Regions from separate parts of the Homo sapiens genome. Here all the other regions are linked to region 2. The links come from fine-mapping of genetic effects on gene expression. A gene starts in region 2. Each other region holds a variant in brackets. All regions are shown on one strand. Distances are from middle to middle.

Region 1 (11,000 bases), 25 kb after region 2:
TGTAGGTTACACTTTGATATAAGGACAAGCTGAAATGGACTTGCCCAAACATAAACCAAAACCAGACTTCTGTGATGTTAAGACAATCTACTTGCAATATAATTGCCTGCCAAAAGAAAACTTAAAATACTCATTAGAGAAAGGTAAGTTATTTAGAGCTTCTAGGAAATATCATCCAGCATACATCAAGGATACATTTTGTAATTTCTAGGAAAACCACTAAGATAATGATATTTTAAAGGATGTATCAAAAAAGCTAGCAGATGAAATGGAATAATAAAAAAAAATTACCAAGGAATTCAAGAACGGAGGAATAAAGGAACAAAGGACAGGTGAGATGATTGAAAATAATAGCAAGATGGTAGATTTAAACCAGACTACATTGGTAATTATGTTAAATGTGAATGGATTAAATATTCTAACAAAAAGAGAAAGATTATCAGACATTATATATAAGTGAGTAAGACCTACCTATATTCTATTTATAAGAAAAGCACTTTACAAGTAAAGGCACAGGTAAAATGAAAAGATGGAATCAGTATTGTTGCAAATACCAAAAGAAAGCTGATGTGGCTATATTAATACCAGACAAAATAGATTTAAGGAGAGAAGTGTTATGAGAGATAAGAGAAAAAAAAATCATGATGAGTGGGCCAATTTATCAAGAAGACATAATTCTAAATATGTTTTCACATAGTAACACAGCTTCCAAATATGTAAGACAGAAGCTAAAATAGCTAAAAAGAAAGGTAGATCTGTATTCCTAGCTGGAGATTTTAAATACATTCAAAGTAACTGGTAGAACAATAAGATTTAAAAAAGTTTTAGTAAAGGAATAAGAAATTTGAATGGTATGATTAATCAACTTAACCTAATTGACATTTATAGAACATTATATTCAACAACTGAAGGCTTTACATTATTTTTAAGTGCATATGGGACATGTGCAAAAATATTCTGGGTCATAAAGTAGTATCATTAATCTTCAAAGAATTTAAATCATACAATGCATGTTTTCTGATCACTATAGAATTATATTACAACCCAATAACAAAAAAAAAAAAATAGACTGCAAATATTTGGAAATTAAGCAAGACACTTCTGAGTAGCCTGTGGATGAAAAACAAAGTCACTGTGGAAATTAGAAAACATTTTAATCTGAAAAATAATAAAAATAATACGTATCAGAACTTTTGGAATACAGCTGAAGCAATGCTTAGAGGTAACTTTATGCTTTAGATGTATAAATTAGTAAAGAACAAAGGTTTACAATCAGTAGTCTAAGCTCCTATCTCAAGGGAGCAATGAATTAAACCCAAGGAAGTAGAAAGAAGGAAATAGTATAAAAGTAGAAATCAATGAAACAGGAAAGTTTTACAGTCAGTTAGTTAAGAAAACTTTTAAAAAATGAAAACCTGTAATGACCTGATTAAGAAAAATGAGAGAAAACACAAATTACTAGTAACAGGGATGAAAAAAAGAGACTTCACTACAGATCCTCTCTATATTAAATTGTTAATGAAAGGGAATTATGTACAACTTGATAATACATTTGACAACTTGAATGAAAGGTCATAATCCCTGAAAAACACAGTTTAGTCAGCTGACATATAAAGAAATAGAAAATCTGAGTTGTTCTGTGTCTATTAAGGTAGTTGAATTTATCAAAAACCTTTCCACAAAGAAAATCCTAGACCTGATGGCTTCACTGACAAATCTGCCTTACATTTAAGTAAGATATAATCCTGGGTTTACACAGACTCTTCTAGAGAACAAGAAGAAGATAGAAAGATTTATTTGCATATTTTATGACTTTAGTATAATCTTGATAGGAAAACCTGACAAAAGCATGACGAGACTATTTTAAGCCAATATTTCTCATGAACATAGGTAAAAGAATAATCCAGTGAGATATAAAAGGGTTAATGTATTGTGACCAACATGGATTTGTTTGGGGAATGTAAAATAGCTTTCTAATAACATTTGTCATAGTTTGTCATAAATGCATTTTGTCATAAAGTTTGTAGTTCTTAATTTATATCTCAGTTGTGATAATAGGTGTAAATTATCAAAATTCCGTGTGTCTAAGGAATTCATTCACTAAAAGGAAATGCAGGGTAAGTTAATTATACAAGACTGATTTAAGAGGAATTTTAAATGTTTTTAGGGCATTTTGGAGGCATATATGTAAATATAAATATGAGAGAATAAAAAATATTCTAATGGACTTGGAAGAGTAACCAAGACTTTTCCTTCAAGTAAGGATCAAATTGTATTTGATTCTCAACCTTTTTTTTCTAGAAAAGATACTTTAAAAGTGAGTTATTTCTGGCTCCCAGCAGATGAGTCATAAGGGTGTAGATCCACGCTATCAGTTGAAACCCTTCTTCTGGAAGTTTAGCTGATTTTTGTCTCCCTGTGCCTAAATCTTCATTTTAATTTACATTGTTTGTATTTGTTACCTGTTGCAGGATAAGAGAGTAGAGTAACTTGTTGTCCTGCAGTGGACATAGCAACTCAGACATTTATCATCACATAGTCCCAGTGGGTTCGAAATTCAGGAGCAGCCTGGTTGCTGATTTTGGTTCAAGTCTCTCAAGAGGTTGCAGTCAAATGTAGGCTGGGACTGCAGTCATCTGAAGGGTAATGCACTAGGGCATTACCCTTTCCAGGTTGCTCATCCATGTGGCTGTTGCCGGAAGACCTTAGTTTTTGTGGATTTTGTCAGGAACGGTCAGTATTTCACCATGTGGGCTTTCTGTGGGTCTACTTGAGTGATATCATGATGTGGCAGCTGGTTTCTTCCAGAAAGAGTGAGCAGAGAAATTAAGGAAGCCACAATCCTTTTATTACCCTATTCTTGCACATCACACACAGTCACATCCATCACACTGTCTTCATTAGAAACAAGTCACAAGAGAGGGCTCTAATACTGAGAGCAGTTTATTAACTTGCCTAAATGAAGTTTGAATCCATGTGTGCCCAAATACTTAGCCCTCTTTTTCCATTATGTGACCACATTTCCATCAGAGAAAGGAGCACAGAATTATCTCATTCATTCATTCGTTTGTTCAGTAACTGTTTAAATATACTGTCAGACAATGTACTAGACAAAGTGTATGTAAATAAAAAATAAACAGGCCTTTGTCTTTAAATTCACTAGTTTACTGTGAGAAGTGTACCTTACATGTCCATGTTCTTCCTTGCATTCTTTAAAGATGATTCCTATTGTCTGTCCAGATCTGTTGGCATAATATCCTGGTTGAAATGATAAAGTGATTACTTCTAGGTTAATAATTCAGAGATCCAGAAATTAATACGTCCTTGATTGAGTCCTTTAATTCTTAGCAACACGTTTATATATTTGTTTTAGTATTAGTAAGAAGTATGTAAAAACCCCGAATTGTTTGAAGTGACTAATTGTCACAAGTAGAGAGCAGTCTGTTATAAACATGTTAGGTGAATAGTACCTGGAGGAAACAACTAATCAGCAAAGGAAATGTCTATTTAGAGAAAAACTAGGTGTTCCCAATTTACCTTAGCTACAAATTTGGACTGATTAATCATTTTAATCTTGACCCTAGCTATGGTCTTTATTCCCTACTTATCTCTTCCCTGTTTTGCTTTTTTTCTTATTTTTTATACTTAGAGATAGAAAGTGGTAGACGGAATATAGAGGTCTCGGATTAAGTAGAAATAATTAGTATCTACAGAGAGATTCTAGTCTATATTCATAACACAAGAACTACTATTAAATAATAATCACAGAATAAGAAAGTATGAGAAATTAAAAAGATTGTTACAGAGAGTAATGACAGGCTAAGAGAATAAGGAAAGGCTAAGGGAAAGAAGTAAAAATGAGTGAAATCTCCCAGTCTGTAGAGTGAAAATATGAAAGAAAAGTTTAGAGACAAATGATTAACCCATTTGGGCCAAATAAAGAAAAAGTAGTGAGGAAAAAGATGTATTTGAGACGTGTACAAGAGTCTCTAAATTAAAATAGCTCTTCCAGTGCTGTGTAGGAAAAATTTAAACATGGCCTGCCCCAAACAAGTCTTTGTGAAATTATAGAATACCAGCTATTTAGATAGACCCTAAATATTCCAGACAGAAAAATTTGGTGTTTCTACAAAATGAGGATAAATAGGTAGACAGGTAGGACACAGTGCCTTTCAGAGTTTAGAAAAAATGATTTTGTCTTGAACTGTACTAAAGTATGAGGGAGATAGTATTTTCAGATGTCCAAGGACTCAGTGTTTGCCTCCAACATATACTTGTTGAAACCATTATTTGAGGATCTTCCAGTAAAGGGAAAAAAAAAATGATAAAAACATGGAATTCAAAGTAGGGTACTTAACCTGAGCGGGTAGTACAATCAAAAGATTTCCACAGAAGTAGCTGATTAATAGCCCTTGAAAACACGTAGACTAAATTTAGATCAGGATGTTAGACGGCTCCGAAGAGTATCTTTAAGAAGAAAAGTGGAATCACATTAAAGAAAAGTTTAAGAAACAGGGTGATTTCCATGATTTCTGTACTGTTTCCAATTCCTTTCCTCTCTTTAGTAGCATTCCTATCAGGCATTTGCACCAACCATGCTACCAAAGGTGCCGCCATTCGCCATTATCCTCCATGTTGCTAAGTGGTCAGTGATAGGCCTTCATCATACTTTAACTTTTGGCACGATCAGTTCTGCCTAAAACACTTTCTTCACTTGGTGTTCACACTTCAGTATTTTTCTTTTCTCTCACTGCCCTCTGTTGTTTTTTCTGCTATAGGTTAAGCATCCCTAATTCAAAAATTTAACATTTGAAAAATGTTCCAAAATCTGAAACTTTTTTTTTTTTTTGAGACAGAGTCTCACTGACCTCAGGTGATTGCTTGCCTTGGCCTTCCAAAGTGCTGGGATTACAGGTGTGAGCAACTGCACCTGGCCCCAAAATCTGAAACATTTTTACTGCCAATATGGCACCATAATTTTAACATTCCACACATCAGTACTTAACAGAAGCTTTATTTCATGCACACAATTATTAAAAGTATTGTATAAAATTACTTTCAGACTGTGTGTGTAAGATGTGTAGGAAACAAGTGAATTTTCTGTTTAGACTTGGATGTCATCCCCACGATATCTCATTATGTATATGCAAATATTCAAAGATTTGAAAAAATCCCAAATCCGCACTTCTGGTTCCAAGCATTTTGGAAAAGGGATACTCAATCTCTGCTTCTTTTTCCCTGGCCTCTTCATATTTGATTTTCTCAGGGCTTAACTTCACTTCTCCATGTACACCTAGAGATCTCATCCAAGTTCATACCTGTTTTGGTATAATCTATACACTGACAACTCCCAAATTATACTAACAGCTCATAATTCTTCAGTCAACACCAGACTCCTATTTAATATTTCCATTTGAATGTCTAATAGATATCTCAAACTTAACTCATCCAAAACTGAACTGAATATATTTTCTTCAAATCTGGCTCTTCCACAATTTTTCCTACATTAATTGAAATTTACTCCATTTTTCCCATTGCCCAGCCTGTAAAACCTGGAGTCAACCTCGACCTTCTTTCATATCCTATATTAGTAAATTTTGTTGATTGTATTTTTACAATATGTCCAGAATCTGGTCATTTCTTACCATCTTTATTTTAACCCTGGTCCAAACCACTATGATCTCTTACCAGTATTATTTTGATAGCTTTTTAACAGTGCTCCCTGCTTTAGACCTCATTCCTCTTCATGCTATTCAATACAGTAGCCAGAGCATTCTTCTTAAAACAGAAGTCAAATATCTCTTCTGTGGTCAGAACTTTGATGGTTTTCCATCTCAGAATAAAACGCACATTTCAGCCAGGCACTGTGGCTCATGCCTGTAATCCCAGCACTTTGGGTGGCCAAGGCAGGTGGATCACGTGGTCAGGAGTTTGAGACCAGCCTGACCAATATGGTGAAACCCTGTCTCTACTAAAAATACAAAAATTAGCCGGGCATGGTGGCACACGCCTACAGTCCCAGCTACTGGGAGGCTGAGGCAGGAGAATCACTTGAACCCGTGAGGTGGAAGTTGCAGTGAGCCGAGATCAAGCCCCTGCACTCCAGCCTGGGCGACAGAGCAAGACTCGCCCTCAAAAAAAAAAAAGTTAAAACACTGTTAATTAGCACCTATGTTTTTGCCAGTATGTTAAGATTATTATTATTTTTATATTCCTTTTCTCTTTAGCTGTTGCTAACAGCCTCTTTTGATTCAGATACTTTAAAGGATCATAACTTGTTACTGAATTTATAAATTATATGGGTGAATGTGGGTTTGTACTCTTACGTATGTTAATATATATCTGTCTGTGATTAGACAGGTAACATATAAATTAAACTCATTTGCAGAGCTATTGCATTAATGATGAGCAATTAGCAGTAGCTCA[A/G]GTGTTTAAATAAATAAGGTGTTTAAATAAAAACTTAACCAAACTTTCAAAAAAACCACAGGTTGCAACTTCTCAAATAGTACTTTTCAAATAGTAAATAAATGCATTAATTTCAAAACAGAAGTTCTTTTTGTATTTGTTCCATGATAAATTGTAGTTTTTCCTGATTGAAAATAGGTTCTTATTTGGGATTAAATTATCTGATCAACTGACTATTGCAAAGAATAAATACATCATTATTTACACACATTAATTATTGTTATAAGCCATTACACATTTTTAAAAAATGAAGTTTGTATTCTTACAGTTACCTTTTAGCAATTCCAGGGCTAAAGGAACTTTACTGCTTGACAGAGAAGCAATGATAGCACAGTGTAGTAGACTCCCAAATAGTTTGGTTACATACCTGAGTCAGTACTTCTGATATTTTTGTTTGTTTACTTACAAATTATGTATGTGTTGTTGTCATTGACAGTCTTAAGGATGATATATACTTAGGCAAGGTTTATCAAGAGCAGATGTAAATCTGTATTTCACATAGCCATTTTGGTATTTCTGAGAGTTTTTGATTGGCTTGTCAAATTGTGTTGTATTTTTCTTGTTTTTATTTATTTTTGGGACGGGATCTCACTTTGTCACCCAGGCCTGGAGTGCAGTGGCATGATCTCGGCTCACTGCAGCCTCCACCTCCTGGGCTCAAGCAATCCTCCCACCACAGCCTCCTGAGGGACTAGAGGTGTGCACCACCACGCCTGGCTAATTTTTGTATTTCTTGCAGAGACAGACTTTCACCATGTTGGCCAGGTTGTTCTCGAATTCCTGAGCTCAAACTGATTTGCTCGCCTTGGCCTGCCAAAGTGCTGTAATCTAAGGCGGATCACAGGCATTTGCCACCATGCTGGCTACATCACATTGTATTTTTCTAAGTTTTATTATAAGACTTCACTAGGAGGAGCAGAAGTATCAGTTTTGCTATTTTTGTGCTTTTATTAATATATTGTTCAATTCATTGTTTCTTTGTAGGAATCTTCTGCGGCTTGTCCATAGTGTGAATAAAAACTAAATCACATCTATAATTCTACTGAACTGGTCACACAGACGCTGCCATATATGTCACAGTACACTGAAAAGGAGCCAGCAGGTAAGGAAAGTCAGTTCTTCTACATTGAGTACTTCTTGTTTTTTCCTCTGGGTACCTTGAGTACCAGTAAGTGACATATGATCATCTGACCTGTGGTCTTACTAAAAGGCTGGTTTTGATCCATATATTGAATATTTGTAAAGCTTAGTTTCTAATTTTTGATAGGTAAAAATAGAAATTCTGGTATTTTCTTTCCATACCCATTTAGCTTGGAAAGCTTTATGCTTTCCACTTCGGAGACTATTCTTTTGGTAGAATTGTTAAGGGCATTGGTTCTGGAGTCATACTTTTGGATTATTAGACAAGTTATCCAACACTTAATTTTAACTTTAATTTTTCAATTTTTAAAATAGAATACAATATCCACCTCAAGATTACTGATGGGATTAAATAAGTGTAACACTTGATATTATTTATACTCGATATGTGCGTGTATTATAAATACATGTTTGTTTCTGTTTCCTTCTTGGAAGTGATTATATTTCTTATTTTAATACAACTAAGAAATTATGTAACTGTTTCATTCATTCATTTATTCATTTTTTTTTTTTTTTTGAGATGGAGTTTCGAACTGTCACCCAAGCTGGAGTGCAGTGGCACAGTCTTGGCTCACTGCAACCTCCGCCTCCTGGGTTCAAGTGATTCTCATGCCTCAGCTTCCTGAGTAGCTGGAATTATGGGCATGTGCCACCACGTCTGGCTAATTTTTGTATTTTTAGTAGAGACGGGGTTTCGCCATGTTGGCTAGGCTGATCTCGAACTCCTGGCCTCAAGTGATCCGACTGCCTCATCCTCCCAAAGTACCGGGATTACAGGCATGAGCCACCATGCCCAGCAACTGTTGCATTTATTGACTATACCATATGCTGTGAGAAAATATTTTGTTTAGTTGCTGTGTAGTACATGTAATGTATAATTGACTAAGCAGACTTACACTTAATATATATATGTGTGTGTATAATAATGTACTACTTAGTGAAAGTTGCTGCTGTTTACTACTGTATACCCCTCAGTCAACAAAACTTAATTGTCAAGTCATGTAAATGTTGATGGCTTTTCTTACCATAACATATACCATTTATTGGTAGTTTTGAAGGCAGGGTAGTATGTGTTTGACCTGGCTCATTGCTGTTTTCTTTTGGATAGTTTTATCTGACGTTAATCTTTGGAACATATTTATTGTGATCTAGTTGATTCTTCATGGTACAGATACCATTTAAAGAGGTTACTTGTTATCTTTGACATAAATGTTTTCATTCTTAAAGTAATTGAAACCATCATATCATAATGCTAGTAATTGATTCATCAAATATGTATTGAGCACTTATATTAATATAATATATAAGGTACTTAATTTGGAAGATCTCCCATAAAGAGCTTTGGCAGTATAATAATTTGGCATATGAAAAATATTTTTTGATAGGTTTCATTATAAAAATCTGAAATACCTTAAAGAAACCAAATTTTAAAACATATTTTTTGAAGGGAAAAGGCCACTAACTCTTATTATATAGTACTTCATATTTAATTTTCTAGTGTGTGAAGAATAATGTTTTATAGTACTAGTAAGGTACACTTCATGTTCAGAAGCATATGATTTGATAAATAATAAAATATAAACTGAAGTAGTTTTCCCCAACAGGTTGCAAGAATAAAGCTCATTGCTGTTCCTGTTTTAATTTTTTAACTTTTTTTTCAGCAATGGACCAAGAATCTGGTAAGGCTGTCTGGCCCAAACCAGCAGGAGGGTATCAGACAATTACAGGCAGGAGATATGGAAGAAGACATGCTTATGTCAGTTTTAAACCATGTATGACCAGACATGAAAGAAGCTTAGGTCGGGCTGGTGATGACTATGAAGTGTTGGAACTAGATGATGTTCCAAAGGAAAATTCCTCAGGTGTGTAACATTTAATTATTTAAAGGTTATTAATAGTTATATAGGAATTGATCTTATAATTAAATTTTTGGGTGGGTATTATGCATGTCTGTGAGTGTAAATGCAGCACACTTCCTATCAAGAAATTCTATTTTGAAATTCTTATTGAATTTAATATTAATGGTGTATATATTTAAACATTGTAGAAGAAAATAGAATACAGCCAATCATTAAAATATAACCACACTCTCATAGTAGTGATTACGTTGTCATAACCTCCAGCCAAAGGAAATCATCTTTGAATCAAAAAGATATATTTTGAAATTTTTAAAAATGTGGATCAAGTAGAGATATTTTTTCCCTGCATATAATATTTAAATAACTTTTCTTCTTCTTCTTTTTTTTTTTTTGAGATGGAGTCACGTTCTGTTGCCCAGGATGGACTGCAGTAGTGCATCTTGGCTGACTGCAACCTCCATCTCCCAGGTTCAAACAATTCTTGTGCCTCAGCCTCCTTAGTAGCTGGGATTACAGGTGTTTGTCACTGCACCCAGCTAATTTTTGTATTTTTAGTAGAGACAGGGTTTCACCACGTTGGCCAGGCTGATCTCAAACTCCTGACCTCTCAAGTGATCCACCTGTCTTGGCTGGCTTCCCAAAGTGCTGGGATTACAGGTGTGAGTCACCATGCCTGGCGTTCTTTTTTTTTTTTTTTTTTTGAGATGGAATCTTACTTTGTCATCCAGGCTGGTGTGCAGTGACGTGATCTGGGCTCCCTGCAGCCTCCACCTCCTGGGTTCAAGTGGTTCTCCTGCCTCAGCCTCCCAAGTAGCTGGGACTACAGGCATGCGCCTCCACGCCTAATTTTTGTATTTTTTGGTAGAGATGGGGTTTTGCCATGTTGCCCAGGCTGGTCTCGAACTCCTGACCTCAAGTGGTCCGTCCAACTCAGCCTCCCAAAGTGCTGGGATTACAGACATGGGCCATTGTGCCCGGCCAACTTTTCTTCTTTTAATTTTATCCTAAATTTAACTTGGCTTGTTTATTTTTTCATCATTTTACAAAATCCAAAGGACAAGGAAGGCTTATTCAATTAAAATTTCTTAGTTATTCAATGGTTTTGAAAAAGTATTTTGCAGCTATCCATGTACCATAATTGCACATTTTTGGACTGGATTTGTCTTCTTCCTCTTGTTCTAAGCAAACTTGACAAGACATTTCTAGATTATTTTTGCTGTCATATGTAAGAATCTGAATTACTAGCTAGGGTCATCCCATTGAAGAACCCTTCGTTCCCAGCTACTTGGGAGGCTGAGGCAGGAGAATGGTGTGAACCTGGGAGGCGGAGCTTGCAGTGAGCCGAGATCATGCCACTGCACTCCAGCCTGGGCCACAGAGCAAGACTCCGTCTCAAAAAAAAAAAAAAAAAAAAAAAAAGAACCCTTCGTACCATATATCAAAGAACCCTTCGTACCATATATCATGGCCGAACTTCAGTTATTTTACAATTCATGAATTTTTATTCCAGCAAATCTCAAATGTCTTCATTTTTTT
Region 2 (11,000 bases):
TAAAATCAAAAGCAAGTTAGTTACTTGCTAGATACAATGGAGGTACAGGCATTGGGTAAATATAGCCATTCCAAATTGGAGAAATTGGCTAAAACAAAGGGGCTACAGGCCCCAGGCAAGTCCAAAATCCAGCAGGGCAGTCAAATCTTAAAGATCCAAAATGATTTCCTTTGACTCCATGTCTTGTATCCAGGTCATGCTGATACAAGAGATGGGTTCCCATGGTCTTGGGGAGCCCTCCCCTGTGGCATTGCAGGATACAGCCTCCCTCTCAGCTGCTTTCATGGACTGGCGTTGAGTGTCTGTGGTTTTTCCAGGCACATGGTGCAAGCTGTCAGGAGAGCTACCCTCCAAGGGGTCTGGAGGATGGTGGCCCTTTCTCACAGCTCCACTAGGCAGTGCCCGAGTAGGGACTCTGTGTGGGGGCTACAACCCCACATTTCCCTTCCTCACTGCCCTAGCAGAGGTTTTCTGTGAGGGTGTTGTCCCTGCAGCAAACTTCTGCCTGGGCATCCAGGTGTTTCCACACATCCTCTGAAATCTAGGTAGAGGTTCCCAAACCTCAATTCTTGACTTGTGTGCACTCACAGGTACAACACCACATGGAAGCTGCCAAGGCTTGGGGCTTGCACCCTCTGAAGCCATGGCCTGAGCTCTATGTTGGCCCCTTTCAGTCACAGCTGGAGTGGCTGAGACACAGGGTACCAAGTCAGTGGACTGCACACAGCATAGGCACCCTGGGCCTGGCCCAGGAAACTATTTTTTCCTCCTGGGCCTCCAGACCTATGAATGGAAGGGGCTGCCGTGAAGACATCTGACATGGCCTGGAGACATCTTCCAGATTAACATTCAGCTCCTCATTACTTATGCATATTTCTGAAGCTGGTCAGAATTTCTCTTCAGGAAATGAGATTTTCTTTTCGATTGCATTGTCAGGCTGCAAATTTTCCAAACTTTTATGCTCTGCTTCCCTTATAAAACTGAATGCCTTTAACAGCACCCAAGTCACCTCTTGAATGCTTTGCTGCTTAGAAATTTCTTCCGCCGGATACCCTAAATCATCTCTTTCAGCTTCAAAGTTCCACAAATCTCTAGGGCAGGAGCAAAATGCTGCCAGTCTCTTTGCCAAAACATAACAAGAGTCACCCTTCTCCATCTGAGACCACCTCAGTCTGGATTTCATTGTCCATACCATTATCAGCATTTTGGGCAAAGCCATTCAACAAGTCTCTAGGAAGTTCCACACTTTCCCACATTTTTCTGTCTTCTTCTGAGCCCTCCAAACTGTTCCAACCTCGGTCTGTTACACAGTTCCAAAGTCACTTCCACATTTTTGGGTATCTTTTCAGCAATGCCCCACTCTACTGGTACCAATTCACTGTATTAGTCCCTTTTCACACTGCCATAAAAATATACCTGAGATTGGACAACTTACAAAAGAAAGAGGTTTATTGGACTTACAGTTTCATGTGGCCTGGGAGGCCTCACAATCATGGCAGAAGGTAAAAGTAACGTCTCATGTGGTGGCAGACAAGAGAAGAGAGTTTGTACAGGGGAACTCCCCTTTTTAAAACCATCAGACCTTGTGAGACTTATTCACTATCATGAGAACAACACAGGAAAGATCTGCCCCCATGATTCAACCACCTTCCACCAGATCCCTCCTACAACACATGGGAATTCAAGATGAGATTTGGGTGGGGACACAGCCAAACCATATCAGAGTTTTCAAAGTTCCTGTGGACATCTCATTCTCCAGCTTTTCCTTTTGAGGTAGGAGATCAGCAGGATTTGTTTTTTGAGCGCTGGTCAATACCCCTGTCACTACTGCTCTTACCAGAGCAGGATCTGGTAGAAAACAGAGTGCAGTAAAGAAACCAGCTGAAACCAGCAAAGGGCAACAAAAGTGACCTCTAGCTGCCCACACTGTTCATTAGTATAAAGACACTCCTGCTGGGACCATGACAGTTTACAAATGCCATGGCAACAAGCCATGGCAACAGCCTGAAAGTTACCTTATATGGATCTAAAAACTCCTCACCTCTAGAAAGTTCTAATAATACACCTCTTAATTAGCATATAATTAAAAGTGGGTATAAATACAGCTTCCAACAGCCCATATGCTGCTACTCTGGGCACACTGCCCATGGGTTACCACTGCTTTGCAAGGAGCAGTATCTCTGCTGCTGCTGTACACTGCCACTTCAATAAAAATTGCTGTCTAACACCAGCAGCTTGCCATCGAATTTTTCCCTGGGTGAAACCAAGAACCTTCCTGGGCTAAGCCCCAGTTTTGGGGCCCTCTTGCCCTGCATCAGTTTTGAGTGTTTGGTTAAGCTGTATTTGGCCCCACCTGTTTCCACTGCCTAAGACAGTGGCAAAGTTAATCAATGTTTTTGTTTTTGACAAATGACCCCTGGGGAAAAGTCTTTGCACTGGGTGAGCCTGGAGTGAAATCAAACAAAGGCAGCCTTGTAAAATCTGCAGAACCACCAGATAGGTCAAATAATGACAGTTCTCTGGAAATTAAGCTCTTTAAAGGAGCTCCAACACCATTCTACTTCCCCTACTGGCTACCAGCCTGCTCGTTTTCACAATTGTGGGCTGTTGGTTTTCAAAGCTACAGTGGAGCTGGACATGTGGCTGTTAGAGTAGGGCAAGTCAAAATGACACAAAACTGGCTGTTCTTAGAGATTCAGCTATTTGAATAAATACTCCCTGGATTGCTGCAAACCTTTGGTAAATTTTCAGAGTTCTAAAAAAGTTAGTTCTGACAATTTTGCCAGTGTTCTCATTGCTGAAGAGAATTTTCAGAGGTCCTTACACCTTCATTTTGGCTGACATCACTTTAAGGCTATGATTAGAACATAGATCCTCTCACTCCTTGACCAAGCCTTCTTCTATTTAAATTAGTGGTCATCAAACTTTACGTATGTCAGAATTACCTGGAAGGCTTGTAAAAATACAGCTGGGCAACATACCTAGAGTTTCTGATTCAAGTCTGAGGTTGAACCTGAGAATTTGCATTTTATGTATTTATTTATTTTTTATTTTTATTTTTTTGAGACAGTCTCACTCTGTCACCTAGGCCGGAGTGCAGTGGCGTGATCTCTGCTCACTACAGCCTCTGCCTACTGGGTTCAAGGGATTCTCCTGCTTCAGCCTCCCGAGTAGATGGGACTACAGGCATGTGCCACCACGCCCAGCTAATTTTTGTATTTTTGGGTACAGACAGGATTTCACTATGTTGGCCAGGCTGGTCTTGAACTCCTCAAGTGATCTGCCCACCTCAGCCTCCCAAAGTGCTGGGATTACAGGCATGGGCCACCACGCCTTGCCAGAATTTGCATTTTTAAAAAGTTCCTAAGTAATGCTGATGCTGTTGGTGTAGGGATTATAATATACTTTAGGAACCACTGCAGTATATCATGTAGTACCTTCAATCCATTGCCTTAGATAGTGCTTCCCAACCCTGGAATCAACAATAATACATATAAGCGAATAATACATACTATTATCTCTATATAGTAATACAATACATAAGCTAATATGTATTTAGTACTTCATTGTAGGTATGATATGCTTTACATTGATTAGGTTATTTAATCTATACAACTCATGAATTGGTATTATTACTTTCCCATATTTATAATAAACTGGAAATCGAGGTCAGAGAACAAAGTAGATTGCCCAGAGGCACACGGCTACAAATGCAGGAGCCAGTATGTGAATATGTCTGCTTGATTCTAGAGTACAGGCTTTTTCAGCCTCCATACCAGTGTTTCTCATAGTAACATAGATCACTTATGATGCCTTGGTTAACTGTAGTTGGGACACGCATGCAGGATTAAAAACAATGACTCATATAGTGAGAAAGTGATTGCTATTCCGGCTCTATTTTTTCTATCCTTTGATGACATCATGATAAAAATACCATTTGAGTGCTGTATCTTTAATGTGTGTCTAATGCTTGGTAGCTTGCCCTTTTAACAAAGACAGTTGTCTTTAGACTTAGAGCCTTTAGTGGACAACAGTTTCTAGCCACAATTTAAAAACATTGTTTTGCATTCATTTTTCTTACAGTTACTTTCAACTTATAATAGGTGATGCTAGTTTTCCATTTATAGTACTTTTATAAAGTCTCCTTCTTAAAGAAATTAAAGAAAATATACATTTATTTAAAGAAAAAAGGACAGTGAGTAGTATACACAGATACAGTATGAAAAAGGTTGAAATTTGGGAATCCCTGCCTTCTAGAACAGGTTAATGTATCCAGTTGGGCCAATCTGGAACACCCTAAAGGGAAACTAGGGAAATGTAATTAAAATATGAATTTTGTTTTTTTTCAAAGAGGTACTTGGATGGTTAAAGTCAGAACTCCTATAGCAACACGTGTGAAGGCAGAGTAATATCAAGCAAGGAATGGTTTTTTGGTAAGAAACGTACTACAGGAGTGGGCTGGGATTCAGATTGGATTTCACAAAATGTCTGGCAAATTCTCATAAACCTAAATTTCTACAGTAAATTTTGGGTAATTTATTTCCATCAACAGCAAAAAAAAATTAGTCTCAGTTCACTGGCAAGAGAGTTCGCTGTTGTTAAGGGGACAGCACAAGAAGTGGGGCTCTTAATTCGCGGGGGAGGGGTGGCGATGAATATATCCTGGGCATCAGGCGACGGGTCGGGGGTGGGGAATAAGAGAAGACAGAGGGACTGTAATCAGATAAGCGGACACGTTTCAAGATGAATAAAGGGAATATGTGCGGAACGAAGAAACAGTTTTGTATCACTGACATAATTAACTAAACTGTTACCCAGGTTTAAATTAAGCAAGGTGTCCGGGGACTGCAGCTGTTGTATTTATTTTGGTTGCATGTGATGGGAGCTGTTACTTCCCGGCTTGACAAACAGCCTCAAGATGCAAGCTGGGAGGCTGTGGTCAGCCCAAGGCTATACAGAGGAAAGGCAGGCCTCCTCTGAACCCCGCCCCAGCAGAATAAGAAGCGAGGGGCAAGGGTCAGCGCGGAGAGGGAGGGTGGAAAGCGCCATATAGTGCCCAGGGTCAGGGTGGGTAAACAAGCCTTTCTTCGTGTCATTTTTTTTTTTTGTCTCACCGATATCTGCATTGTAACTGAACTTTATGCCAGGAGACCTTAACCTTGTTAATCAGGTTTCCAGTCGAATCAGGATCGATTTTAATGCCTCCATTTTGGTTGTTGCTGTTGGAATTTCCGAAAAAGCCTAACTGCGCCAGTCTTTCTGTTAGTTCTCCACACCCCCTTCCCTTTCCGAGACCCCGCCCTTTTCTCTCAGCCCAAACCACAAAAGGCCGCGCAGTTTTAGCTCCTACACGGTGCTCCGCCCCCTCCCCAAACGTCGCAGTACTGCAGGGAAAGGAGGTGGGCTCGGCTGGGGCGGGGGACTGAGTCGGCTTCGTCTTTCCGCTCTTCAGCCAATTGGTGAACTCCCCCTGAGGGAGATGGGGGAGCAGGCTGTAGAGAAGGTCCAAGTATTTTTCCCTTTTTCTGCCACGTCCCAACCATTGACGTGAGCCCACTCCTCAGGTTCTGATTGGGCGTATGCATTGTCCCCCAGCAGAGACCCTGTAAGCTGACTGGTCATCTCTGCTATGGGGGAGGGGCTTGCGTACTCTCCTCCTTCGCCTCCACCGCGGCGCAAGGGGCGGGACTCACCGCCACCGCCTCTGCTTCCGCCGCCGCCACCGCCGCCGCCGCCGCCACAGCCGCCAGCCGCTTCGCGTTCGGCGGGGGAGGAGTTGGAGGCGGAGAAGAAGGCGGTGGTGGCGGGTGGAGGTTCGAGCGCTGTTCTCGCTCCGGAGCCGCTGCACATTTCGGTGAGGGTTTTTTTTTTTTTTTTTCAGTCTGGCTTGTTCCGCTGTCGGGAGTGTGGGGGTCGGGGCGAGGAAATTGCTGCGTTCAGCTCCTCAGTTTCTCTGTCTCTAGCTTCGGAAGGAGCGGGGCTTGTCCCTGGCCTGCTGCGCCGGCCATGGTGGGTGGGGTTGATGGCTGTGGGAGGCCTTCTTCGCCTCCTGGGCCCTGTCCAGCCCGGACCCGGGCCGCGCTCCTATCCGGGACGGTCGCGCCCGCCGCCCCCCGACAGATGACATTGGTTGGTATCGGGGTCTTCGCTGCCGCTCTTTACTGCTGCCTCTTCTGCTGTCCTTGGTGACTTGGCCAAGGAGCCCGCTGGCTTTCCCCTACACTCGCCACTGTACAAGAGTTTGCCCCCCAACCAACACCTCACACCCACCTTCTGCGGTTTCCCGTCACCCCGCGTAGAGCGGAACCATCTTACGCCACAGGCCTGCAGCACCCCTCCCCCGAGGAGCCTTCTGTTGCCGTCGTTTTGCTGGGCGTCTGCATTTTCCCCGATTGTCAGTGAGGCTCGGCACGCAGACACCCCGCTCGAGCCGCAGCAGTCGCTCTACTCCCGGGATCAGCACCTTTCCGCCAGGGCTGCTCTCAGTTAGCGATGTCAGGCCAGAGCTCCTCTTGCAGATGCACCTTTAATTTGGCCTCCCTCAGATGACTGGTAATCATTTTGCGCACATTCAAAATGGTGAGGTTAAAGACGCTCAGACCAAGTTGAAGCAAAGGGGAGGTGGTAAATAGTCGTTTTGCAGGGAGGAGAGTAATCTGAGAGTTCCTTCTCCGGACATTAAAAAAAAAAAAATTTACATCCGCATAGGCGCTTCTTTTGAGTCTGCTGGTTCTGTGAAGTTTAAAATTTTCATTGCAGGCTTAATGTATTCTGTTTTATCATGAAATATTTGGTCACATTTCTTTAAAATGGCAGTCACCTTTGCTGAAGGCTACGGATCATTTGAAGTGTATGTGAATAAACCTGAGGATAACAGTAATAAACGTTTAAACTGTATTTTTCAGTGTTGTAATTGTCTTTTGGGGTTCATGTCATTTTTATATGAGATGACCACTTAATTTTAAAAATTCATTGCAGACATGCAAGTTTGATGTACACTTCAACAATATAAATAACGGACTGTTAGGTAAAATTTAAATATTTCTTTTCATCCCCCAGTCCCACTCCAGTGTAAAGTTGACAGTTTAGTGTTCATTTTTCAAAATCTTGCAAATGCACTTCTAGACACATACAAGTACACGTAAAGTTTTTTTTTTTGAGGGAGGCTATACCATATACCAAACATGTTTGCATACCGCTTGCTTATTGACTTAATTACATATGTTGGACATTTTTACTTTTTACATATAGGTCTCCCTAATACTTTTTAAAAGGCTAACTGGTATCTCGTGAGTTTGAATGGGCTATAATTTATTCTATTCCCTTTTTGAAAGACATTTAATTGCAGTTTCTTTTTGCTATTACAAATGATGATTTATAATGAAAATAACTTTCTAATTTATTGATCGATGTTTAATTACAAATTTTAATTCATCCTTGATTTTAAAAAATTAAACAGTATGGAAGAATGTAAGGTAAAAATTACCGCTTCCACTTCTAGTCCTGCTTGCATCTTGATTGTCAGCCACTGTTAACAATTCAGTAAACTTCCTCTATGTGTGATTATTTCTGGAGCATGGGTTCCTAGAAGTGAAGTTGCTCAGTTAAAAGATTATGCATATTTTAAATTTTGGTAACCCTTTCTCCCTCTTTATTACTCTTGTTGAAAATATTCTTGAATGTTTCTTATGCATTTCTTCTTCTAGGTAAACTTTAGACTGAACTAAAAATCCTTAGCTATTTTGAATAAGGTTATATTGAAATTTTAGATTAATTTGGAGACAACTGATCTTTATAGTATTGAGTCTCTCTCCTCAGAAATGTGGCCTCTCCATTTTATTCACATCTTGTTTTATACTGTTAGGGAAATTTTTATAGTTTTTCTTTTTTTTCTTCATACGTATAACATTCCTTCCTGGTATTCCTATTTTATGGTTTGATTCGTGTGGTGGATGGAAACTTTCAGTAACATTTCTCTCTCTCTGTTTTCTCTGGTTATAGCAAAACTTTTGAGTTTTCTATCATGTATCAGATTATTTTATTGAGTTGATTATCAGGAGATATTCACAGTTTTGTGGTTTCCTTTTCAGTTTTTATAACTTATGTGTTTTTCTCATTGCTTTTGCAATTATACATCTTATAAAATGTTGAGCACTGGTAGATTAAAAACTAATAGCACTGATAGCTAACAACAAACATGGCATTGTTTCTGACTTTAAGGGGGAATGCTTCTAATGTTTTAGCATTAATTATGATGTTTGGTGAAGCTTTCTGGTAAAGCCGCTGATATTAAAATATTTCCTTCTAGTCTTGGCTTTCCAAGATGCTTATGTTGTTGTTTTTGACATTTTTAAAAACCATAAATGAGTTTTCTTATATATATTTTTTTGACATCTTTTGAGGTGGGTATATGTGGGCATCACCAGTATTCCCTGGTTTATATTTTCCTGAGAGAGCACCCTCTTAGAAAATCAACCTTATTGAGGATAACTTAGATACAGTAAAATGTACTTATTTGAAATGTACAGTGTATTTTGTTTTGACAAATATGTGCTCTGTGACCACCACCACAGTCAAGAGTGGAATATTTTCATACCACAATTAAGATATAGAATATTTTCATCTCCCCCAAAGTTCCCTTTTGCAGTCAATCACAATTTCACCCTCAGGACTAGGAAAGCACTTATCATCTTTTTCTTGCTATAAATTGGTATCATTTTGTCTAGAATTTCATGTAAGTGGAATGATGTAATACATACTCTTTTGTATCTGGCTTTTTCTCTTGGCATGTTTTTCAGGATTATCCATGTTTTTCTGTATTTAACGGGTTCTCATTTTATTGCTGAATAGAAGTCCTTGGTATTGATTTACTAGTTTGTTGACCATTCCACCTATTTACAGATACTTGGATTGTTTCCAGTTTGGGGCTGTTATTAATAAATAGCCTTCATTTGTTGAACATTCCTTTATTCAATGAACATTCATTTATTTTGAATTTTTGTGAACATCTTTTTTTTCTTGGTAAATACCTAGACATGGAACTTGTTGGGTTGTATGATACATGGATGTTTATAAGAAACTGCCAAACTGTTTTCCAGAGTGGTTGTCACATTTTACATATCCATCAGCAGTGTATGACAGTTCCAATTGCTCCACATCATCCTCAGCACTTGGTTATTTCAGTCTTTTAAATTTTAGCCCTTTTAGTGGGTATATAGTAGTATCATACTGGGATTTTGATTTGCATTTACCAGATGACTAATGGTGCTGAGAATTTGCTCTAGTGTATGTCTTCCTTTGTGAAGTATCTGTTGACATTTTTTGCTCATTAAAAAACAAACAAACAACAATGGGTGGGCCTGGCGCGGTGGCTCACGCCTGTAATCCCAGCACTTTGGGAGTCCGAGGCAGGCGGATCACGAGGTCAGGAGATCCAGACCATCCTGGCTAACACGGTGAAGCCCCATCTCTACTAAAAATACAAAAAATTAGCCGGGCGTGGTGGCGGATACCTGTAGTGCCAGCTACTCCGGCTGAGTTAGGATAATGGCGTGAACCCGGGAGGTGGAGCTCGCAGTGAGCCAAGATCGTGCCACTGCACTCCAGCCTGGGCGACAGAGCGAGACTCCGTCTCAAAAAAAAAAAAAAAAAAAAATGGGTTTGTCTTATTGAGTTGTAAGCATTTTTTAATACATTCTTTATACAACTCATTTGACACACAGAGATACATAAACACACACACACACTGCAATCTGAAGCTTGTTTTTTTTTTATTTTCCTAACTTTAAAAGAAGAGCTTTTAATTTTGATAAATTCATCTTACCAACTTTTTCTTATGATTTGTGCTTCTGTGTTCTAAGAACTCTTTGCTTAATGCAAAGTTGTGCAGATTTACTCTTAGGATTTTTCTATAAGTTTTCTAGTTTTGGCTTTCATGTCAAGGCACATTATCCATTTTGGGTTAGTTTTTGTATATGGTGTGTAGTAAGGGTCAAGGCTCATTTTCTTTTCAAATGTATATGTAGTTCTAGCACCATTTGTTGGGACTACTTTCCTTTCCCCATTGAATTAACTTTGTCAAAAGTCAGTTGATCATATATGTAAATCTGTTCCTGTACTTTTCTCTTGATCTTTATGCCTATAATTTTGCCAGTACTGAGTTATCATGGTTATTTTTACTTATAAGTATTGAAATTAGGTAATATGAATCCTTGAACTTTATTCTTTTTCAAAATTGCCTTGGCTATTCTAACTTTACCGTAAAGCTTTTAGAGGCTGCGTGTTGGTTTCTACAAAAAGACCTGAAGGGATTTTAATTTGGTTTGTGTCGAATGCATAGATCAATTTAGGAAGAATCGACATCTTGAGTCTTCCAATTCATGAATACAGGTTGTCTCCATTTATGTAGGTCTTCTTTCATTTCCTTTGTCAGCATTTTGTAGTTGCAGCATGAAGATGTTGCTCATTTTGTTGGATTTATATCTAAGTATTTAATAATTGATACCATTATAAGTGATAATTTTCTTAAATTTTAGTTTCCAGTTATTCACTGCTATATGTAAAAATACAGTTGGTTTTTGCATATGGACCTTGATGCTTGCAACCTTGCTAAATTCATTCATTTGAGTAAATTTTTTGTAGATTCTCTGGAATTGTCCTATGTAGACAATCATGTTATTTGCAAATATAGATCAGTTTTATTATTTTTGAATTTATATGTAACTCCTTCCACCTTTTCTTCTTCTTAGACTGGCTAAGACCTCCATTATGATGTTGAATAGCAGTGGTGAAAGCAGATATCCTTCTCTGTTCCTGATCTTAAGAAGAAAGCTTTGAATCTTTCATTATTGAGTGTGATAGAGTGGTGCTATAGCTTGAATGCTTATGTCCCTTCCAAAATTCATAGCATTGAAACATAATCCCCATTGTGAGGGGGATCTCAAGGAGGTGATTAGGTCATGAAGCTTCTGCCTTCATTAATGGATTCGTGTGCTTATAAA
Region 3 (11,000 bases), 66 kb after region 2:
ATTAGCCTGGAATAACCTCCCCAAATGAAAGTTACTATAAATAACATCCCTTATTTCTGTTTATGTGTAGCACAAATGAGTTCTTGCAAGCAGGTTCTATCTTGAGTAGTACATATGGGGAATTGGAGGAGATTCATAATTATAGCTATGTGAGAAGGAAAGGGACTGATAACAGGATCTTACCTTCCATTTCCTATCTTGCAATGGGAAAGTTCAATATAAGGAATTCTAAACTAGAACAAAGAAGTAGAGTAACAAGGGATTGGCTAGGAGGAAATAAAGATAATTACACAGAATATGGGAAAAGCGCATATAAGGAGCAGCCACCACCTGTCTGGCAAAGCTAGGACAACCCAAGGAAGAGTCCCTAGTCCATCTCAGGGCTGAGGTCACCTTGATGGAAATGGCACAGCTGTGGCTTGCTGTATGAGAGAGAAGTCACTTGGGTATGTGCTGGTGAAACTTGCTGGAAGTCAGCTCTCTTAGGGTGCTGAGGAAAGCTATTCATAGGAAGGTTTCTAACTGGAAGTGCTGTACTGCAGAACTGTCCAACATGGATGCTGGGGGAGGCTGCCACCTACTAAGTGCATTACAGGAACTGGCTGCTAGAGAAGCTGTGTGCACTGAGTCTAGTGCTAGAGAAAGCCACGAACATCACTCTAGTCCCAGTGTGCTCTGTCAAGCAAGCACACTGGGACAGAAGGAAGGCCCTTTCCTCCAGCAGTGTTCTTCAACATCCTCTGTGAACAAAGCTTAGCATCATGCCAGCTGTTAGGAGGGAAAGTATTTAAACAGCCCAGATTTTCACAGAGCCGACACAATAGTGAATATGGATTTGTGGAGCAATAATTCCATAAATGGAACATTCCAGCACTTTGATAACTTGGCTTCCATATATACCTTTCAATGCACATTTAAATTTCCATCCATCAATAGAATTGTATTTCCACCCAACAAAATACAGCTATTACTACAAATGAAGTTTCACCCATTTCCCAGAATGAGCAGATGGCTAGTTCCAAGAGGCATTGTATCCATCGCTAGTTATGCATTACTCCACACATTCATAGTAACACTGAATATTCTCTTATATAAAGACTAAATTGCAAATTTAACTTCCAACAACTGGCATATTGAAATAGAAATGGGAAAGAGGAAAAGTAAACTGTTAACATATATAAATAAGCAGATACATAAAACAAGCACATAAAATATGCAGAATTACTAATCCTTGTTCTGTATTTGCTCATGAGACTGAATGATAGCTATAACTTCTTTCTTCCATGACCCAGTCATATTTTCCCTGCCCTCAGCCAGAAGCTCACTCAGCTGGTTAGGATTCTTTACTTGGTAGAATAACCCAGACCTACACTGTTTATATCTTCAGTTCTTTCTTTTTTTGTCTGCTGTAGTTCTGGTAACTTTACTGTTGGGCATGAAAGCAGTAAGAGATTCACACTCCAGGTGAGATTATCACAGGGTTTTCAAGCAGAGGAAGCCTAGTCTGTGGAGGGCACACTGTTTCTACTGGTAACAGGAGGCTCAGAGTGACTTGGGGATTCAAAGTTATCAGTTTCCTCAGAGTTCAGTCAGATGTCTTCATTCCAGGTTTCAGAATCTTATTCCTTAACCAATCAATGGTAAAACTTTTGAGAAATTTGATGAGACTAAGAAGTCAACTCTAATTTTCATTTAGCAATCCACACAATTACATTTTGCGTTTGATTTTTAGGAGCAAGAGCATCTTTTAGGGCTGTCGTGGATGCTTTCTGGCTCTCATACCCTATTGTGAGGTTTAAGAGACCTGAGTTTGTAATTTTTTTCTGTAAGTGCACAAGGGCACTCTTAATAATCCATCTCACATCACGATTTTTACAGTTAGATCACTGTTGCCGTAAGATCAAGTATAGGAGCTATCTGGGCTTTCAAGACACATGCTTCAGTTGGATCTTCATCACTGTCAACCACAGTGATACCTTGATTAATTGTGATGCCACTACAGACTATGGATTAATAGCATCCCATTCTCATTGGCAAGGAGCTCAACACTGAGCTCAAGCTCAACAGGTGTAACCAAACCAACCCCCAAATCCTTTTCTTGCCAGTTCTGTGTCCCGGGACCACTCTTAATATGAATTCTGTACCAGTCTGAGTTCAGTCCCAAGAGAGAGAAATACAGTAATTTGAACAGGGAAAATTTACTGTAAATATTAACTGCAACAGAAGTTTAGAATACCAAGGGATTGGCTAGTAGGAAGTAAAGCAAACTCTAAAGAATATAGGATTAGCAGATTTAAGAAACAGCTTTAGGGCTGAGATGGAGCACTCTACTTCCCTCCTGTCTAAGGCTGAGAGCCAGACCTTATTGGGAAGGACACAGCCATGGCTTATGGAGGAGTATTTATGGTACTGTGCTGGCAGAACTTGCTGGAAATTTGCCTTCTGGAACATGGCAAAAATCTGCCCTCTGGGGCAAGAGAAACTTCACAGTGATGTGACCAAGCCCCTAGGTACTCTGCTGCAGAACCACCTAAGATGAGTACAAGGAGAAGCTGCTGGCAACCTTGTCCTGTAATTACCAGTTACTGGATAAGCAGCATGTGCTTCAAGAGCCAGGCACTGGAGAAGCCACCCACACTGGAGGAGTCTGATGCTGGAGAAGCCATCTGTGCACAGGGAAGCCTGGCACACTGCAGGGGCAAGCCCAAGGGAACCATGAAGCAAAGTCCTTTCCTTGTGTCTCTCCAGCACCTTCTGCTGACAAAACTTAAAATCATGTCAGCTAACAAAAGGAAAAATATTTAAAAGGCCCAAATCTGTTTTCAAAGGGCAGAAATGAAAGGTGTATTTGGAGCTGAGAAGCAATAATTCAATTACTGGAACAGTGTTTCTTTCTTTTTGCAGTGTTTCTCTGCATATCCAGAGTCAAATTTAGTGTTCAATAATATTAACTATGTTTATTAACTCTTTGTGAACCGTTTTGCTTTTTCCTTTTTTAGTCCTGATTTTGCTTTGGGCTTGGCCCAAGGCAAGTTGTAATCCCTATTATAAGTCATCTCAAATTCTTTTTGGGAATATCTATGGTAGGACCTTAGGCATGTATAAATATTATGTTTGCCATCCAGAAGAATAGAGTGTTAGCTAAGCTATCAGGCAGAATTCTTCTTCTATATGGGAAACCTGGCTTGTTCATTTTTTTTTATTATGGTAAAATAAACATAATATAAAATTTACTATTGCTACAGTTTTTTAAAGTGTACAGTTCAGTGTAATCAAGTGTATTCACATTGCTGTAAACAGTAACTCCCCATTTTCCCATCTTTCCAGCCCCTGGCAACCACCATTCTGTTTTCTGTCTCAATGAATTTGACTACTTTAGGTATCTCATGTAAGAATCATACAGTACTTATCTTTCTGTGACTGGCTTATTTCATTTAGCATAATGTCTTCAAGGTTCATCCATGTCGTGGCATGTGTTAGAATTTCCTTCCTTTTCAAGGCGGAGTAATATTTCACTGTATGTGTATATCACATTTTGCATATTCATCCATCCACCAATGAACAGTTGATTTGCTTCCACCTTTTGGCTCTTGTGAATAATGCTGCAGTGAACATGGGTGTACAGATACTTGTTTTAGTCCCTGTTTTCAGTTCTTTTTGGGTGTATACCCAGAACTAGAATTGCTGGATTATGTGATAATTCTGTTTTTAATTTTGAGGAATTGTTGGGCTGTTTTCTCTAGCAGCTGTAATATTCTGCACTCCAACCAGGAGGGGAGGCCCAGTTTTGATAGTTGTCAAATTTCCTTCAGGTTTTTCATCCCTAAAAAGAAGCCAAGGTCTTTCATAGCTCCATGATCTTATGATGCTGTAATTAGGATATAATACTAACAAGTAATAATTAAACGGTGTAATACCAATTCTTTGAATACAGTAGCAGTTCAGAAGGATACTCGTGCAGTCTAGGACCACTGACATAGGCCTCATGGAAGAGACAGGACTTATGCAGTCCCAGAGGGAGTGATAGGACTTAAAGGATGGACAGAAAGCACCAGGCAGGGGAAGCAGCATGTGCACCAAGAGCAAGTAATTGTACAGGTTGCAGACAAAAAGACAAAAGTCTCAACTGCCATTCTAGTCTAATTAGAGCCAGAAAGGATGAGGATGACGCATCCCAGATGATCACATGATCTGATGTTCTTTCCATCCTTCTTAGAACAGTAATTTGACACAGATATTTGAACCTGTAAATGAAATTCACAACCCAGATAACCTAGTAATACTTGTGAGCTGGTAATGTGGGTGCGCCAAATCCATGCCAGTAGTAGATGTAGCCATTCAGGAGTGCATTATTTGCTTCCATACCTGGAGCTTCTAGTAGCCTCAGCCACATTTTATCTTTCATGAAGTGAACCTTTCCAAAATGTTTATTATTTTCTTTCATGTTATTGATCTCACATAGGAACCAATAGTTGGAAAAAGTAACCACTCCTTCAAAATATAAATACGGAGAAGTAGATGATTATTGAGACAAGGTAGTTTTTTTTTTTTTTTTTTTTTGAGACAGAGTCTCGCTCTGTCACCCAGGCTGGAGTGCATGGTGATCTCAGCTCACTGCAACCTCTGCCTCCCAGGATCAAGCGATTCTCCTGCCTCAGTCTCCCCAGTAGCTGGGATTATAGGCACACACTACCACGACCTGCTTTTTTTTTTTTTTGAGATGGAGTTTCGTTCTTGTTGCTCAGGCTGGAGTGCAATGGCTTGATCTCGGCTCATTACAACCTCTACCTCCTGGGTTCAAGCAATTCTCCTGCCTCAGCCTCCCAAGTAGCTGGGATTACAGGCATGTGCCACCACACCCTGCTAATTTTGTTTTTTTTTTTTTTTTTTTTTACTAGAGACGGGATTTCACCATGTTGGTCAGGCTGTCTTGAACTCCTGACCTCAAGTGACCCACCCCGCCTCGGCCTCCCAAAGTGCTGGGATTACAGGCATGAGCCATTGCGCCCGGCCGAGACAAGGTATATTTTTATTTCACATGTAGAAAGTTGGGCTCTGCGTGTATATTTAATGTTTTGGTTTGTTGGTGATGGTGGTAGTTCCTTCTGAAGAGGCAAAAGGAGCAAAGGACTAAAGCAAAAGAAACTAACAAAAAGAGAATAATGGTGATATAATTTTGGAGATACCCTAAAAATAGTTTTCTGTTACTGTTTTAAAGTATTTCTAACAAAGAACTGTACCTTTTGTTTTTCAGACTGCTCTGGCCCATTTAGAGTCTCTTGCAGTGGATGTTGAGGTGGCCAATCCACCAGCTAGTAAGGAAAGCATTGATGGTCTTCCAGAGACCCTTGTTCTTGAAGATCACACTGGTAAGGGCAAAGTTGATCTCAAATGTTGAAGAACACATTGTACATTTAAGTATATTATCAATATACCTAGATAATTAAATACTTGATTATTAGAAACTTTCACTAGATTTTTTTTATAGAAACCAGATGCTCACAAACTTTCACCTAGTACAAGAATATTTTTAATTTTCAAGCGATAGGCTGAGACAAATGTTCCTCTGTCAGCTTTTTTACAAAGCAGTATTTATTAGATTCCAAATTGCCAAGTATTAGACAGAAATGCCTGCCAATTAACTGGTCAAAGACTGGCTCTTTCGTCTTTCAGAGGTATCTTCTATGAGTATAATATGTTGCTTTTCAGTTTTACTAAAATTGAACTACGTGTGATTGACCTGAATTATTTGTTGTTTTCAGCTATTGGTCAGGAACAATGCTGTCCAATCTGTTGCAGTGAGTATATTAAGGATGATATAGCAACAGAGTTGCCCTGTCACCATTTCTTTCACAAACCTTGTGTCTCAATTTGGCTACAAAAGGTGAGTGATAGAATAATTAAAAATTTAAAAATACTTTAATAGTGTCTTCTGCAAGTGAATAATAGTATCTTTTTTTTTTTTTTTTTTTTGGTGAGACAAAGTTTCGCTCTTGTCACCTAGGCTGGAGTGCAGTGGTTCGATCTCGGCTCACTGCAACCTCTGCCTCCAGGGTTCAAGCGATTCTCCTGCCTCAGCCTCCCAAGTAGCTGGGATTACAGGCACCCACCACCAAGCTCAGCTAATTTTTTGTATTTTTAGTAGAGACAGAGTTTCGCCATGTTGGTCAGGCTGGTCTCGAACTCCTGACCTCAGGTGATCCGCCTGCCTCAGCCTCCCAAAGTGCTGGGATTTCAGGCATGAGCCACCACGCCCAGCCAATAGTAGTATCTTTTAAACCTGTTTTATTTAGCCGCAAATTTGTAGTACTTTTTAATTCATTGTTAAAAACCTGATTGCATTTAATGATTACAGATCAGGGATAATATGGAAATATTTTATTTTACTAACATTGTCTAAAAATATAGACAATAATAACAACATGTTTTTAATCATTTTAGGAAGTGATTAAATATCTGAAAACTCATTTTAGAATAAAGCTGATTAGAATTTTAATCATAACCCTGAAATTTGGTGTTTTCAAAAGTATCTAAAGCAGAGAAGCCTTTGGCACTACTCAAAGTACTATAACAATATACAGCTATTCTGCTAATACAGGTTGGTGTTTCTGAAATGTATATGAGAGA[T/C]ACTTAATAACCTACCAAGTAGCTCCTATTCCAGTTTTTATATATTGTCTTCAAATATTTACCCAATAAATCTTTTTTTTTTTTTTTTTTTTTTTTATGGTACATTATCTCTCTTTATTTACATATTTTCTTTTTTTCTTTCTTTCTTTCTTTCTTTTTTTTTTTTTTTTTTTGCACCGCCCTTAATCCATTTAATCCTGAGTGGACACAGCACATGTTTCAGAGAGCACAGGGTTGGGGGTAAGGTCACAGATCAACAGGATCCCAAGAGAGAGGAATTTTTCTTAGTGCAGAACAAAATGAAAAGTCTCCCATGTCTACTTCTTTCTACACAGACACGGCAACCATCCGATTTCTCAATCTTTTCCCCACCTTTCCCGCCTTTCTATTCCACAAAGCCGCCATTGTCATCCTGGCCCGTTCTCAATGAGCTGTTGGGCACACCTCCCAGACGGGGTGGTGGCCGGGCAGAGGGGCTCCTCACCTCCCAGTAGGGGTGGCCGGGCAGAGGCGCCCCTCACCTCCCGGACGGGGCGGCTGGCCGGGCAGGGGGGCTGACCCCCCCCCCACCTCCCTCCCGGACGGGGCGGCTGGCCGGGCGGGGGGCTGACCCCCCAACCTCCCTCCCGGACGGGGCGGCTGGCCGGGCAGAGGGGCTCCTCACTTCCCAGTAGGGGCGGCCGGGCAGAGGCGCCCCTCACCTCCCGGACGGGGCGGCTGGCCGGGCGGGGGGGCTGACTCCCCCCACCTCCCTCCCGGACGGGGCGGCTGGCCAGGCGGGGGGCTGACACCCCCACCTCCCTCCCGGACGGGGCGGCTGGCCGGGCAGAGGGGCTCCTCACTTCCCAGTAGGGGCGGCCGGGCAGAGGCGCCCCTCACCTCCCGGACGGGGCGGCTGGCCGGGTGGGGGAGCTGACCCCCCCCACCTCCCTCCCGGACGGGGTGGCTGGCCGGGCGGGGGGCTGACCCCCCCACCTCCCTCCCGGACGGGGCGGCTGGCCGGGCGGGGGGCCGACATCCCCACCTCCCTCCCGGACCGGGCGGCTGGCCGGGCAGGGGGCCGACCCCCCCACCTCCCTCCCGGACGGGGCGGCTGGCCGGGCGGGGGGCCGATCCCCCCACCTCCCTCCCGGACAGGGCGGCTGGCCGGGCAGAGGGGCTCCTCACTTCCCAGTAGGGGCGGCCGGGCAGAGGCGCCCCTCACCTCCTGGACAGGGCGGCTGGCCGGGCGGGGGGGCTGACCCCCCCCCACCTCCCTCCCGGACGGGGCGGCTGGCCGGGCGGGGGGCTGACCCCCCCACCTCCCTCCCGGACGGGGCGGCTGGCCGGGCGGGGGGCCGACATCCCCACCTCCCTCCCGGACGGGGCGGCTGGCCGGGCGGAGGGCTGACCCCCCCACCTCCCTCCCGGACGGGGCGGCTGGCCCGGCGGGGGGCCGACCCCCCCACCTCCCTCCCGGACGGGGCGGCTGGCCGGGCAGAGGGGCTCCTCACTTCCCAGTAGGGGCGGCCGGGCAGAGGCGCCCCTCACCTCCCAGACGGGGCGGCTGGCCGGGCGGAGGGCTCACCCCCCCACCTCCCTCCCGGACGGGGCGGCTGGCCAGGCGGGGGGCTGACCCCCCCACCTCCCTCCCGGACGGGGCGGCTGGCCGGGCGGGGGGCCGACCCCCCCACCTCCCTCCCGGACGGGGCGGCTGGCCGGGCAGAGGGGCTCCTCACTTCCCAGTAGGGGCGGCCAGGCAGAGGCGCCCCTCACCTCCCAGACGGGGCGGCTGGCCGGGCGGAGGGCTCACCCCCCCACCTCCCTCCCGGACGGGGCGGCTGGCCAGGCGGGGGGCTGACCCCCCCACCTCCCTCCCGGACGGGGCGGCTGGCCGGGCGGGGGGCTGACCCCCCCCCACCTCCCTCCCGGACGGGGTGGCTGCCGGGCGGAGACGCTCCTCACTTCCCAGATGGGGTGGCTGCCGGGCGGAGAGGCTCCTCACTTCTCAGACGGGGCAGCTGCCGGGCGGAGGGGCTCCTCACTTCTCAGACGGGGTGGTTGCCCGGCAGAGGGTCTCCTCACTTCTCAGACGGGGCGGCCGGGCAGAGATGCTCCTCACCTCCCAGACGGGGTCTCGGCCGGGCAGAGGCGCTCCTCACATCCCAGATGGGGCGGCGGGGCAGAGGCGCTCCCCACATCTCAGAGGATGGGCGGCCGGGCAGAGATGCTCCTCACTTCCTAGATGTGATGGCGGCTGGGAAGAGGCGCTCCTCACTTCCTAGATGGGATGGCGGCCGGGCGGAGACGCTCCTCACTTTCCAGACTGGGCAGCCAGGCAGAGGGGCTCCTCACATCCCAGACGATGGGTGGCCAGGCAGAGACGCTCCTCACTTCCCAGACGGGGTGGCAGCCGGGCAGAGGCTGCAATCTTGGCACTTTGGGAGGCCAAGGCAGGCGGCTGGGAGGTGTAGGTTGTAGTGAGCCGAGATCACGCCACTGCACTCCAGCCTGGGCACCATTGAGCACTGAGTGAACGAGACTCCGTCTGCAATCCCGGCACCTCGGGAGGTCGAGGTTGGCGGATCACTCGCGGTTAGGGGCTGGAGACCGGCCCGGCCAACACAGCGAAACCCCATCTCCACCAAAACCAGTCAGGTGTGGCGGCGCGAGCCTGCAATCGCAGGCACTGGGCAGGCTGAGGCAGGAGAATCAGGCAGGGAGGTTGCAGTGAGCCGAGATGGCAGCAGTACAGTCCAGCTGCGGCTCCGCATGAGAGGGAGACCGTGGGGAGAGGGAGGGGGAGGGGGAGGGGGAGGGGGAGGGGGAGGGGGAGGGGGAGGGGGAGGGACCCAATAAATCTTAAGCATATTTGAATTATTTAAATAAAGGAAGTGTTTTATTTCAGTCTTCTCTGTGAACTCTGTTTTTGCATAAAGGATATTTACCATCCAGTTCACTAGGAATTCCCAAGTCACTTTCCCAAATTATCTACTTAGGAATACAACTCCCTTTCTTCCCTATAAACCAGTGCTTTTTTTCTCCTTCCCTTTTCCCATTCCTTTCCTTCCTTCCGTCTTTCCTTTTCCTTTCTTTGCTGTTCCTCTATTTCTATTTGCCACTTTGTTCTTCTCAAAATTCCACTTAAAATCTCTGAAATCCAGTTTAGAAATGTTCACTGTTCTTTTATAAAATATCTCTGTATGAGATAACCCATAGTGCCTGTCAGGTAGTAAGTGCCCAGTAAATATTTTACAAATCATATCAGATGAAAGCTATTATTAGAAATTAGAGGTGTTTTTATTTTATTAACAACAAAATCACAAATAAAAACTTATGGTGCAAGTTACAAAGACCAGCTAGCAGTCTTCAGTAAACAGCACGTGCTAATGTGTATTATTTGAGGAGTATTGTCTGCATAGAGATAATGTGTGTCTCAAGTCTCATGAGACTTCCTGGTATTCTGGATTGAGGTATAATGCTGGATTCTGAATTAGTTTTAAAATACTGCTTTCCTTGCTCTCTCCCTTCTCCCAGAACAAAATTTGGGAAATAATATTTTAGGTGATTTTTCTTAATCTGTTTATCTGGCATTTTGTTAATACAGCCTAGATGGCTGTGCTGTACAATATACCAACCTCTAGTGTTTTTATAAGAGTTGAAGTAGGTAATCCATGATGAATTTAATATAGTGTTTGGCACATAGTAAACATATAGGAAAAGTAATGGTAAACTTATTACTAATGAAAGTTAGAATTCAGTAGAAAATGACTTTTTCAGTGTCTGTACATGATGGTGGTAGTAGTGGAAGTAGGTGTTATTAAAATTATTGGGGAAGCAGAAAATGCAGAGCCACCAACTCTTAAAATTTTCGAGCATGGCTGAGTCTGTGAGGTCCATTCCCTCATTTCATTTCTACTCCCATACATTAGACCTTCAACCCTTGTTGTCTTAACTACTATTGTAGTGACCTACTTTATTTCCTTACTTCCTTTAGAGGTACTTTCTTTTCATTTCTTTTTTATTTGCATAAATCTGTGGGGTACATGTGCAACTTTGTTACATGCATAGGTTATGTAGTGGTCAAGTCAGGGCTTTTAGGATATCCCATCACCTGGATAACATACATTATACCCATTAACTAATTTCTCATCATCTTCGCCTCTTCCTATCCCCTCACTCTTCCAAATCTTCATTATCTATCATGCCATCATTAAAGGCATTTTCTGAAATGTAGTTCTGATAATGTACTTCCCTTCTCATAAAAGAAAGAGAGGGACCTCCAGTCACCTGTGGAATAATCTGAAGTTTTAATCTTGACATTCAAGGCCTTCTGTGATTTAGACCCCCAACTTGTTTCTTCAGATTTACTTTTCTGTACACTTGCTCATGTT

Alleles and levels. Alleles are on the strand shown, and positions count from the first base shown. SD is a standard deviation of normalised expression in the study named. Not every link is listed here.
In carriers of allele T in region 3, the expression in non-classical monocytes of the gene that starts at base 5,722 in region 2 tends to be higher than with C alone (large effect, 1.2 SD a copy in Schmiedel 2018).

Evidence for each region.
Region 1: its variant is fine-mapped to the expression of PJA2 in whole blood (INTERVAL, PIP 0.96).
Region 3: its variant is fine-mapped to the expression of PJA2 in non-classical monocytes (Schmiedel 2018, PIP 0.95).

What each region holds. Positions count from the first base shown.
Region 1 is chr5:109,379,970-109,390,969 of GRCh38, reverse strand. PJA2 (praja ring finger ubiquitin ligase 2) reads left to right here. Exons shown (of 10, transcript NM_014819.5): 2 at 7,450-7,567; 3 at 9,267-9,467. The coding sequence starts at 7,537. Among named protein-coding and RNA genes, the nearest start is that of PJA2, 25 kb to the left of the region's middle. The variant A/G (reference allele first, on the strand shown) is at 6,427.
Region 2 is chr5:109,404,696-109,415,695 of GRCh38, reverse strand. PJA2 (praja ring finger ubiquitin ligase 2) reads left to right here and starts at 5,722. Exons shown (of 10, transcript NM_014819.5): 1 at 5,722-5,854. RefSeq lists enhancers at 5,088-5,267, 6,378-6,497, 6,538-6,637 and a silencer at 5,778-5,857.
Region 3 is chr5:109,339,074-109,350,073 of GRCh38, reverse strand. It overlaps PJA2 (praja ring finger ubiquitin ligase 2), which reads left to right. Exons shown (of 10, transcript NM_014819.5): 8 at 5,255-5,369; 9 at 5,763-5,884. Among named protein-coding and RNA genes, the nearest start is that of PJA2, 65 kb to the left of the region's middle. The variant T/C (reference allele first, on the strand shown) is at 6,628.